2 separate regions of the Homo sapiens genome follow, and region 1 is linked to region 2. A link means that fine-mapping ties the variant in region 2 to the expression of a gene that starts in the linked region. Tissue or cell type: whole blood. Region 2 holds a variant in brackets; the other region holds the start of a gene. All regions are shown on one strand. Distances are from middle to middle.

Region 1 (5,382 bases), 48 kb after region 2:
GTCAGGTCGTAATCAAAGACCAGTTAGCACAGTCCCACTGCCTATAATCTTTCTCCCACAGACAACCAAAGCTTAGATGAAAAACAAAAGCATGCTTTCTCTTCAGAAAAATAAATGGGTATCTCCAACCCTGACCACTCCCCTGAGTTCCATATTCACAGGCATGCATACTCAACATGTTCACTCGGAGGTGGTTACAGGGATTCAATGCATGGACTCCAAAGCCACAATGCTTAGGTTTGAATCCTAGCTACATCACTCACCAGCTGGGTGACTTCAGACAAGTCACTTATAACCTCTTTTTGCCTCTATTTTCTCGTGCTGTAAAATGGGGACAATAATGGTTCCTTGCACATATAATTCTTATGATGATTAAATGAATTAATATAGGTTAAAGTACTTAAAACCCTGCCTGGGACTCAGTTTACGCTTACATAATACTATTTTTACTAGCACTGTTGTTATGACTATGTCTAACAGGCATTTAGAACTTGTGCAAAACTAAATTTGTAATTTTCCTCAGTAAACAGCACCACTATACTTCTAGTTGTTCCAGCCTAAACCTAAAAAATCATCACTTCTCCCTTTTCTTCAAATTCCACATCAGCTCGTTTCCCGTCAGCTCTACCTTCAAAACGTATCACCAATTCTACCGCCTACCATCATCTCCACAACTAACCTCCCCCAGCCCAAACCACCATCATTTCACCTGCAGGGCACAGCAGCTTTCTCCCGATTTTCACTCCATCCGACCCACTCTAATCTACAGTTAATTCTCCATACAATAAAACTTAAATCAGACACCAGTCCCTTGATGCAAACCTTCCAATGGTTTTCCATCACAGTTAGAACAACATCTTTACTTCACCACAGCCTACAAGGGACCCCACGGCCTGCCTGGCCCTTGACCATCATTGGCCACTACTTTCCCCGTTCCCGGCTGTGCTCTAAACACTCTCACTGTGTCTGGACCACCTCAGAGCATTGTCCTGTGCTGTTCCTGCTGTGAGGCCGAAAATACAGTCACCTGGAGCCTGGACTCTGAAGTCAGACTGCCCACGTTCAAATAGTCTCTACCACGTTTTAGCTGTGCAACTTTGGCAAATTCTTAACCTTTCTGTGTGTCAGTTGCCTCATCTATGAAAGGGAGATACTAGGTTACATCAAAAGACTTGTAAAAATTTAATTTAGTGTTCAGAATAGTGCCTTACATATGGTAAGCTCTACTTTTTTTAAGTGTTCATTGCTATTAATTATTCCTCTCTGAAATGTTCTTACCTCAGGCTCTTTCCCTCACACTTCAAGTGTCCCTGCCTTTGAATGGCTTTTCCTGACAGATCCCACCAAAAACAACCTTCCCTGTTCCCCCACTGTCCTCCTTTCTTCCTTCCCTTCACTGCACTTATGACTACCTGAAATTACATTATGCACGTATTGTTCGTTGTCTATTTCCCACTGCAATATGAGCCCTGCTAGGTTGGAGGCTGTCTTCTTTGCTGCTCTATTTCCAGAGATTTCTGACTCACATCTCATCCAGGCTAGGGGACCAATGCGAATCTCCTAATAACAATAGCACACTTAGCCTTTCATTTGCACTCTCGTGATCTCATTTGATCCTGGAAAAACCAACAAACAGATAAACCATCGGCTCTCATTTTAGATAAGAAAAACAAAGTTCCAAGTTTGCGTGACTTGTCCTTGGACACGAAGCTAGTTAACGAATAGAACAAAAATTAGAAGCCCTGCTTTCTGATTCAAAGGCTCTTCCTACCTGGATGAAAAGATATCACACTCCTGAAATGAATTTACAGAAATGTGAACTCTCGAGCTCCTGTATAAATACACCCTGAAGTGTGCACAGTATTCTTCCCTTCAAAGTTCCTGAAGACTACTAGTCCCGGAGTTTGAGAGGCATTATAGTCTAGTAATAACTAATCGATAATGTAGTACCCCTTGACCAAAATATTCAAGCAGTCAGATACGATGATTGGATATTCCAAATCGATACAGCAATCCTTAAAACTCAGTGAGTCTGTGTTGTCTATAATGTGCTAGTTCCAGCACACTGAAAGCTTCCTCTGCAAAACCCAGACAACGGGGGCATTGTAATTGCCAAGAGTACCGTGCTAACGATACCTGTTATTTCTTGGGATCCCCATTCTATCAAGTTTAGTGACAACAGTTCGATCACCCAACAGGCTCCAGTGTGGTATAGAATCAGATGGAGGGAAGGTTGTCGGGGGGAGGCAAAACAGTGAAAAAGTTCCCCTTCTACAAGATTCCTGGTCAAATAGCCAGTGGCTACCACATTCCTCAGAATAACCAAGTGTCTGTGTATAAGCTTTCTCCTAGCAAATTTACACACTTGTGTTATCTCACGTGTTCCTAGTGCTGTGGGAACAACCATTAGGGAGGCCAGAGGCTGCTGTACCTCCCTTTTACACAAAAAAGAAAACTGAGGCAGCAACTGGTTATCTTATAAATGTGTCCACGATGACTTGGTCACTTGTGGGATCCCAACGGCCAGGACATAGGATTCCTATTCTCTGAGAGGAAGCTTCCATCCCCTACTTAACATGTCAAACTCCAAGGCTGAGAGGGGGAAGAAAAGGAATCTAAGTCCCTTTATCACGGAAGAAAAAAAGGGACTCTCCATTTGGACTTTCCGCCCCTTCTAAGGCCTCGCTCCCAGGCTCGGAGACGCGCCCCGCCCCAGGGGAAAAGGTGCTGGCCCGGCCCCACGGGGCGCGGCCTCGCCTCCCGCACCCCAGGTCCCTACCGCCCAGCAGGGCGCGCTGCCACTCTGAGCAGACACCTGTCCCTTCGCCACAATCGGCGACTCCCCAAGGAACTGACGCCCCCAGAGCCACCACCACCGCCGGGACTGCCAGCTGCCAGCGGGCCCCGCAAGCCCTAGGAGCTGCAGGAATCCTCGTAAACTTACAGTTTTCCTACAGCGTGCGCGTCACAGCGGGGTGACGTCACGGGCCCAGCAGTCGGGGAGGTCAAGCCACGGGGCGCGGGCCGCTGGGCCCCCAGGCTCCGCCCTCGCCCCGCCCCGGCGCCGCGGCGGGAGACACGCCCCCGAGCTCCACGCCCTCGAGCTCCACGCACCTCCCCGTAGCAGACACCCCGCGCAGGCGCAGACGGCCTCTGCGCCCGCATGCCTGTGGGCTTCGCCGACCGGGGCGCCTGCGGCGGCGACTGCTCTACCAAAGCCTCACTCAAAGCCTGAAGTCGGGGTTAGAGGAGGAGGAGGGGCCGACAAAAGGGGACGGAGACCTTCAGAAATACTGTAAACAAGCTGTCGCCCTGGGGGCTGGAGTAAGACGCCTGGGTTGTGAGGTAGTTTTTCCACAGACATTGCCCGCCTTCCTCACGTGTTCGTTAAAAGTTCTCCACGTGTGGAAACAGCCATTTGCTCTCCATCAGGTGCTGGCGGGTCCTCAGCCCTGAAAAGACAGCTCTCCCAGGGTCCCTCGCTCCTCCCCGGCTCGACGCGGCTCCCGCTAGACTCCGCCCAGACCCCGAGCAGTCCCCGCCCATCTCTTGACTATGCCCCTCCCACGCCCACTTAGGCCTTGCCCCTGGGTCCCGCCCTTCCGGCTCCCGCCCCTGGCTCCCGGCTCCCGCGGGCCCCCACCTGCCCTTCTTGCCCTGGCGCCGCCTCCAGCCCAGCCCGTTTCTTGCAGATTTTAGCTTCTCCCTTGCCTGCCGCCTTTCCCGTTTCGGCTCGGTGAAGCTACCTATGGGTTGCTGTTCATTTAACAAACGGTGATCCGGATAAACATGTTCACTTCTTCGCCTGGGCAAACTTTCCAGCCCCCGACCCACTCATGTCACGATACCTTCCCGTGTCCAAGTCCGGCTCTCTGCTCCCCACTTTTTTTTTTTTTTTTTTTTGAGACAGAGTGTTTCTCTGTCTCCCAGGCTGGAGTGCAGTGGCGCGATCTCAACTCACAGTACCCCCTGCCTCCCGGGTTCAAACGATTTTCTTGCCTCAGCCTCCTGAGTAGCTGGGATTACAGGCGCGCGCCACCACAGCCGGCTAATTTTTATGTTTTAGTAGAGACAGGGTTTCACCATGTTGGCCAGGATGGTCTCCATCTCTTGACCTCGTGATCCGCCCGCCTCGGCCTCTCAAGGTGCTGGGATTACAGGTGTGAGCCGCCGCGCCCGGCCTCTTTGCTCTTTTATACTCTCAGAAGCAATGAGTTCTGGTTAAAAAAAAGGGCTCGATAGACGGAAAAAATGAAGGCTTAAAGAACTGACAACAAAATATTAACATTTGGCTTGTGGAATTCTTACACTCTCGTAAGCAGAAAAAACAAATGTTATGGCAAAAAAGTGTCTCAGACAAATCCGTCTTGGGGGGAAAAAAATTAAAAGAATGAGAAAAACAGACTTCGGAATAAATAGACCCAAAGGAGGAAGTATTGAAAATGGCAAGATTCACTTTTACAAACTTATTTGGAACCACGGCAGATGGCCAGGGCAGGGATTTTGCAAGGCAGCTCCAGTTGTAAGTAAAACCTGAAACAATGGTTTATTTCCACTCTCATTGAAAGTGCTGTCTTATTTTTACAGGAAAGAGTGATGATGGGAATATTAGGCTTTAATTCGAGATCTGAGCTGGTTAAAAATAAAAACGTTTATTATTCCAGAAAAATCTACGTCAGTGTTTTTAAATGTTCTGATTTGAAAAAATATTTGTATATTTTATCTGAATATTAGTTATTATCAAATGATGTAAAAGAAATTTGTAAAGGCTGTACCATAATTGTAACAATAAGGTTTTTCTGTAGAGCAGAGGTATAGAAAAATTAACATTTTTTAAAGTCCTGCATATTTTTAAAACAGTGATATTTATGTTTTTCCTTGCAAAACAATTTTAAGAAACCTTTAAATTGTTAATAGTTTACATGCTTATAAAATGTTTTATATATATCATTTCTAAAAATCGTAATTTTTTTAAGTGAGTTTCTAGGTATACCTTATGGGAGTGTTTCACAGGTACATGTCATCTGTTATTTTTTGGAGTGGAAATGGGTAAGAAGCATACACCAAATGTATCAAATGTTTTTACTATAGATACTTTTGCCTCTGAAAGATGGCATTGTAGAATATAGTCTTCTCATCGTATTGTTCAGTATACTTTCTCTTGAAATCTCAGGTATTCAAAAAAAAAAGTCGTTGTTTTGCTAGATGCAGGAAAAAAGTAAACGCAGTGAACAAAAGATGGCCAACAGTAAAGGTACCCAAGCAAGGATCACAGTCTCAAGGAATGTCAAGTAGAAATTTGTGGGAAAATACCACTCACGTTCAGTCAACTTTCTGTAACAAACTGGAATTTGACCTAGACAGGAAGTGAGAAGCTAGGGC
Region 2 (5,382 bases):
AACTGACATGTTAGGGGACTGCAGAATGAGCCAGAGTAAAGCTAGACAAGAAACACAAGTCCTTACTCCAGGCTGCTCACCCCAGGAGAATCCACTCTAGGTCACCCAGTGTGATCAGATATTCTTACCTAGAAAAGCTGAAATAATCCGAAGTTTACTACGTGTTTATGGAAACATGACAGCATTTCCTGGGAGCTGCTTATATCATGAACAAACAGTAGGTACTGTACATAATAGGCACTTGTTCTGTCCGCCTCCCCATCTCAGAATTAGACTGGAGACAGCTCTTCTCTCTCAGCCTCATCTGTAAAGGGAATTCCAGCCTATCTCATAGGTAATTATGAAGATTATATGAGATAATGTAAGTAAAGTGCCTGGTACATAGAAAATGTTCAGGCCGGGCGTGATGGCTCACACCTGTAATCCCAGCACTTTGGGAGGCCGAGGCAGGGGGATCATGAGATCAGGAGTTCGAGACCAGCCTGACCAACATGGTGAAACCATGTCTCTACTAAAAATACAAAAAAAATTAGCTGGGCTGGTGGCGTGCACCTGTAATCCCAGCTGCTCAGGAGGCTGAGGAAGGAGAATTACTTGAACCCGGGAGGTGGAGGTTGCAGCAAGCCGAGATTGTGCCATTGCACGCCAGCATGGGTGACAGAGCGAGACTCCATCTCAAAAAAAAAAAAAAAGTTCAATATATACTAGCTATTCTTATTTACACTTTGATGACCACAAATTACAATCAGCTGAATGGTAAGCATGTCCCTAAAAACAATACTTTTAATGCTCTTCTAGCACAGAATAATAAGTTTTTCTTGTTTGCTTGTTTTGTGTGAACTATTACATGATCAATGTAATTTAAACTTGGCCTGAGAAAACCATCCTTTTTCTCTTTCTTTTTTTTTTTTTTATTTTTGAGATGGAGTCTCGCGCTGTCACCCAGGCTGGAGTACAGTGGCGCGATCTCGGCTCACTGCGAACTCCGCCTCCCGGGTTCACACCATTCTCCTGCCTCAGCCTCCTGAGTAGCTGGGACTACAGGCACCTGCCACCACGCCTGGCTAATTTTTTGTATTTTTAGTAGAGACGGGGTTTCTCCATGTTAGCCGGGATGGTCTCGATCTCCTGACCTCGTGATCCACCTGCCTCAGTCTCACAAAGTGCTGAGATTATAGGCATCAGCCACCGCGCCCGGCCATCCTGTCTTTTTCTCAACTTCCCAACCAAGGTTAGCACAATCATGTTAAACAACTAAAAAATAGATTATAATTCTTTAACTATAATTCTATTAACATGAGACTGTTAACACCAATTCTGGCTAAAGACTACCAAGCAACACAGAAATTTCCAAGCCGGACAATTATTCTGCAAGAGTTATTCAGGCATGGGTCTGTTGTTTTAAGTGTCTATATCCTTTAAGTATAATATATTTATATTTCCCTTTATGAAATTTAACTAAAATCATTAAATTTGGCAGCAGAAGCAGGAAACCATCTACAAGACCTGCATGGCTACTTTACTTTTATTAATGAAAAGTTACATAAGAGTTTCAGCAAACTACAAAGTTTCCTTCTTATAAGTCTTTTAATATTTATAGAAATTTAAAATAGTTATCATGCTAGAGTCCATTTTAGAAACTGAGAATTTCTATTATCTGACAGCAATAGATTCTGTATTATTTTAGCTCAATTACAGAAATGGATATGTAAGAATTATATTCATCTTTATTCGTACTTGTTAACAATACATCTACCATGTCTACTACTTGACCTAGAAGCTCAAGTAGTGTGACTGAACAAAACTACACTAACAGGGTCTCAACCCCAAACCACTGAGTCACATTATTGGACTTTTTTCTCTAAACAATACACTAAAGAAAAGAAAAAGAAGTGTACTGGGAACCATTTAAAGGGCCTGCTTGGAATAACAGAAAAAGTTACACAAAAGGACCAAAGAACACAAGTGGCTTAAAGTATCAAAGAGAAAGCCTGTAACCAAGTACGAGGAGATGTCCGCAAACACCATGCCCATTGTATCAGTCCTTTCTTGCGCTGTTATAAAGAACTATCTGAGACTGGGTAATTTATAAAGAAAAGAGGTTTAGTTGGTTCATGGTTCCTC[G/A]AGCTGCACAGGAAGCATGGTTGGGGAGGCCTCAAGAAACTTTCAACCACAGCGGAAGGCAAAGGGGAAGCAGGTACATCTTACATGGCTGAAGAGGAATAGTGTGAAGGGGGAGGTGTTACACACTTTTAAACAACCGGATCTCATGAGAACTCACTCACTATCACAAGAACAGCAAGAAGGAAATTCGCCCTCATGATCCAATCACCTCCCATCAGGCCCCTCCTCCAACATTGGAAATTACAATTTGACATGAGATTTGGGCAGGGACACAAATCCAAAGCATATCACCAATGTTAAAAAAATAAAATTGCATACTTCCTATAAACTGAAAAATGAAACCTATAGCCATGTATTTCCTTGAATCGTTTTTATGTAATCTGGATTTTTCAAATTATTTTTTTTATTTTTTTAAACCATGGTCCAGAAAATCTACTTCTAAACTATACATTTTGAATCAATAAACTGACTTTTGTGCTTCAAGTAAACTTATTTTGAAATAATTTTAGATTTACAAGATAGATACAAAAATAGTATAGACTTCCTATACACCCTTCATCCAGTTGTCCATAAAGTTAAACATCTTACATAACCACAGGACATTTGTCAAAACTAAGAAATTAACATTGATTAATTTCTAATTGATTACTATTAACTATAGACTTCATTTATATTTCACCTGTTTTTCTACTGTCTTTCTTTAGTTCCTAGGTATAACCCAGGGTACCATATTGCATTTAATTATTTTTTCTAATGCTCTAAATTTTGCTACATGCCATACTTCTATGTCTTATAAACAATATCTTCATTGTAATTATTATACAAATAAGCCTAAAATTCCCTGGGAAATATGATTTGTTAGCTATTAGGGAAATGTTACATGAAGATTCATGTAAATGTGATATTTCTACAAATGTTATACTGAAGAGAAAAGAGTTAATTGCTGAAGTAAGATATGCCCCACTGTCTACTTTGCCAGGAACCTATGAGATCAAATTACTTAATGTTTCAGAAATCTCTCTTCAAAAAATGCTTGTCACTTACCTATATCCCAAGGCTCCTGTAGAGTCATAAGATATACCGTAAATCCTTTTAATTAATTCTGTAACAATACAAAGTATTATTATAATCATATTCAGATAATCCATTTTCATCAAATATATGTAAAAGGTGCCTTCTTTTCAAGTTTCATTTTTAATTACTGTATATTTTTATTAAGATAATAAAAGAACTAATGTAGAAGAAAATAATTCCATAGTTGATTACATGTCTTTAGTTTAAAAATGAAAGCATGCAAAATTTAATAAAAGTTTTAAGATAAATAGAAAATGTTCCAGAAAAAAAGAAATGCCACAATGAATAAAACTGGCTAAGAAGAATGCTTCACATTCTTTTCCATGTGCATAATACTGTGGAAATTAGTAAACAGTCACAAACAAGTGATTCATATTCAGGGCGCAGCCTTTTTGACAGGAAAACAGTAATCAAGAGTTTGGGATTTGAAGATTTTTAAAAGGACACATGTCTAGTAAAGTGTGTCAGTTTGCCTGAGACAGTCCCAATTTACGGCCATTGTCCCAGTGTCCCACAAATTTACCATTTGTCCTGGATTTTTCATTTTCTAATGATTTTTTTTAATGATAGCATTAAAATATGCTAAGACTTACTTGTACTTTTAGGCTCTGCCATAATCTCATTGAGCCATGTGTGAGATGCATGTGCAATGAAGCCAGTTGTCAATTTCGCAACTTGCTTAAATCTTTAAGACACCTAGCAGTAACCCATTTCTAAATGTACTAAATGTACTGTAACTGATACTTCATTCTTAAAGACAGCACCCAGGCACCATGCAGAAAAAGTATACCTAGGCAGGAGCAGGTAGGGACAGCTAACTCCTCCAGTCTTGAATGAAGGTAGAAGAAATACTGAATACTGCTCCCTGCTCATGGCTAGCTTAAAGACACGGATTTAATGAAAGCAGACAGGACAGAGAAAGTGTTTTACGTATTATTCTCTAAAGCATGACTTTTCATCTAGATCCAATGACTTTTTAAAAAAATGCACTTAGTTCTGATTCTAAAGCGTCTCTTTTACATCATCAAAGTAAAGTGAAAACTGGTTGGCTCCATTAACAGAAAAACTCACAGTTAAATGTTGCCAGCTTTCTGTCAGCATCAGGAGATGTACCAACCAGAAAAATCAGTTAATTCCAATAATGGTTTGATGATTTCATCTAATTCATGAAACCAAAGTAAAGCTTTTGGAAGTTCATTCTGTAGAATATGAAACACTTGACATTGCTTTAATTGCTACTTAAAAATCAGTTTAGAAGTTCAACAACAAAGACAAAATTACCGTTGGTTCTCCTTATTCACAGTAGTTAAGTTCTATGAAGTCACCATGAACACTGAATTAGGGAATACCAAACTGTTTACTCATAAGGGAAATTCAGGGTTGGGTTCCTGAGAGCTCCTGAGAGCCTCTGATTACATTTTAATTAGCTGATCAAACATAACCTCATTTTATGTATATTTCTGTTTCAAGATACCTTATTAATATATAGTCATCCACTGCATGATGTGTCAGTCAACAACAGACTGCATATATGATGGAGGTGGTCCCATAAGATTATCAAGCTATATTTTCACTGTACATTTTCTATGTTTAGATAAATAAATATTTACTATTGTGTTACAATTGCCTACGAATTCAGTATAGTAACACACTGTACAGGTTTGTAGCCCAGGAACAAGAGGCTATACCAAATAGCCTACGTGTATAGTAAGCTATAGATTCATATCAGTACACTCTATGATACTTTCACAATGACAAAATCACCTAATGATACATTTCTCAGAATTTAACCCTGTTGTTAAGCAATGTATGGCTGTTCACTGTTGAGTCACTAACACTGAACTCATAGCCAACAGCACTATAAGTTTATCTATCACATGCATTTTCTCCTTAAGGCACATCACAGCCTTCTTGCACTTAGGCGCAATATACAGCACTTCAGTTCCACACTGGGTAGTCATTTTAAACACAGAAATCATAAGCCTAAAAAAGCAAAAATCATGGCACTATATAAACCACAAAAAGGAGACTTGTTTACCGTATGAGAGCTGAAGGAAATCAGCTTGTCAACTAGGAATGTGTTGAGCAATCCAAATTTTTCACCATTCTGTACCATTTGCAGTCATGCACTCAGTTGAATGCCTAGTGTCATGAGTATTGATTTTGCAGTTACAAATAAATTTT

Evidence for each region. PIP is the estimated chance that this variant, and not a neighbour inherited with it, causes the effect.
Region 1: ZNF438 starts here. The variant in region 2 is fine-mapped to the expression of ZNF438 in whole blood (TOPMed, PIP above 0.99).

What each region holds. Positions count from the first base shown.
Region 1 is chr10:31,028,889-31,034,270 of GRCh38, forward strand. ZNF438 (zinc finger protein 438) reads right to left here and starts at 2,977. Exons shown (of 7, transcript NM_001143768.2): 1 at 2,945-2,977. LOC105376481 (a long non-coding RNA gene) reads left to right here and starts at 3,620. Exons shown (of 3, transcript XR_001747410.3): 1 at 3,620-5,382. RefSeq lists a silencer at 2,639-3,198.
Region 2 is chr10:30,981,201-30,986,582 of GRCh38, forward strand. ZNF438 (zinc finger protein 438) reads right to left here. Exons shown (of 7, transcript NM_001143768.2): 2 at 3,169-3,226. Among named protein-coding and RNA genes, the nearest start is that of ZNF438, 48 kb to the right of the region's middle. The variant G/A (reference allele first, on the strand shown) is at 2,125.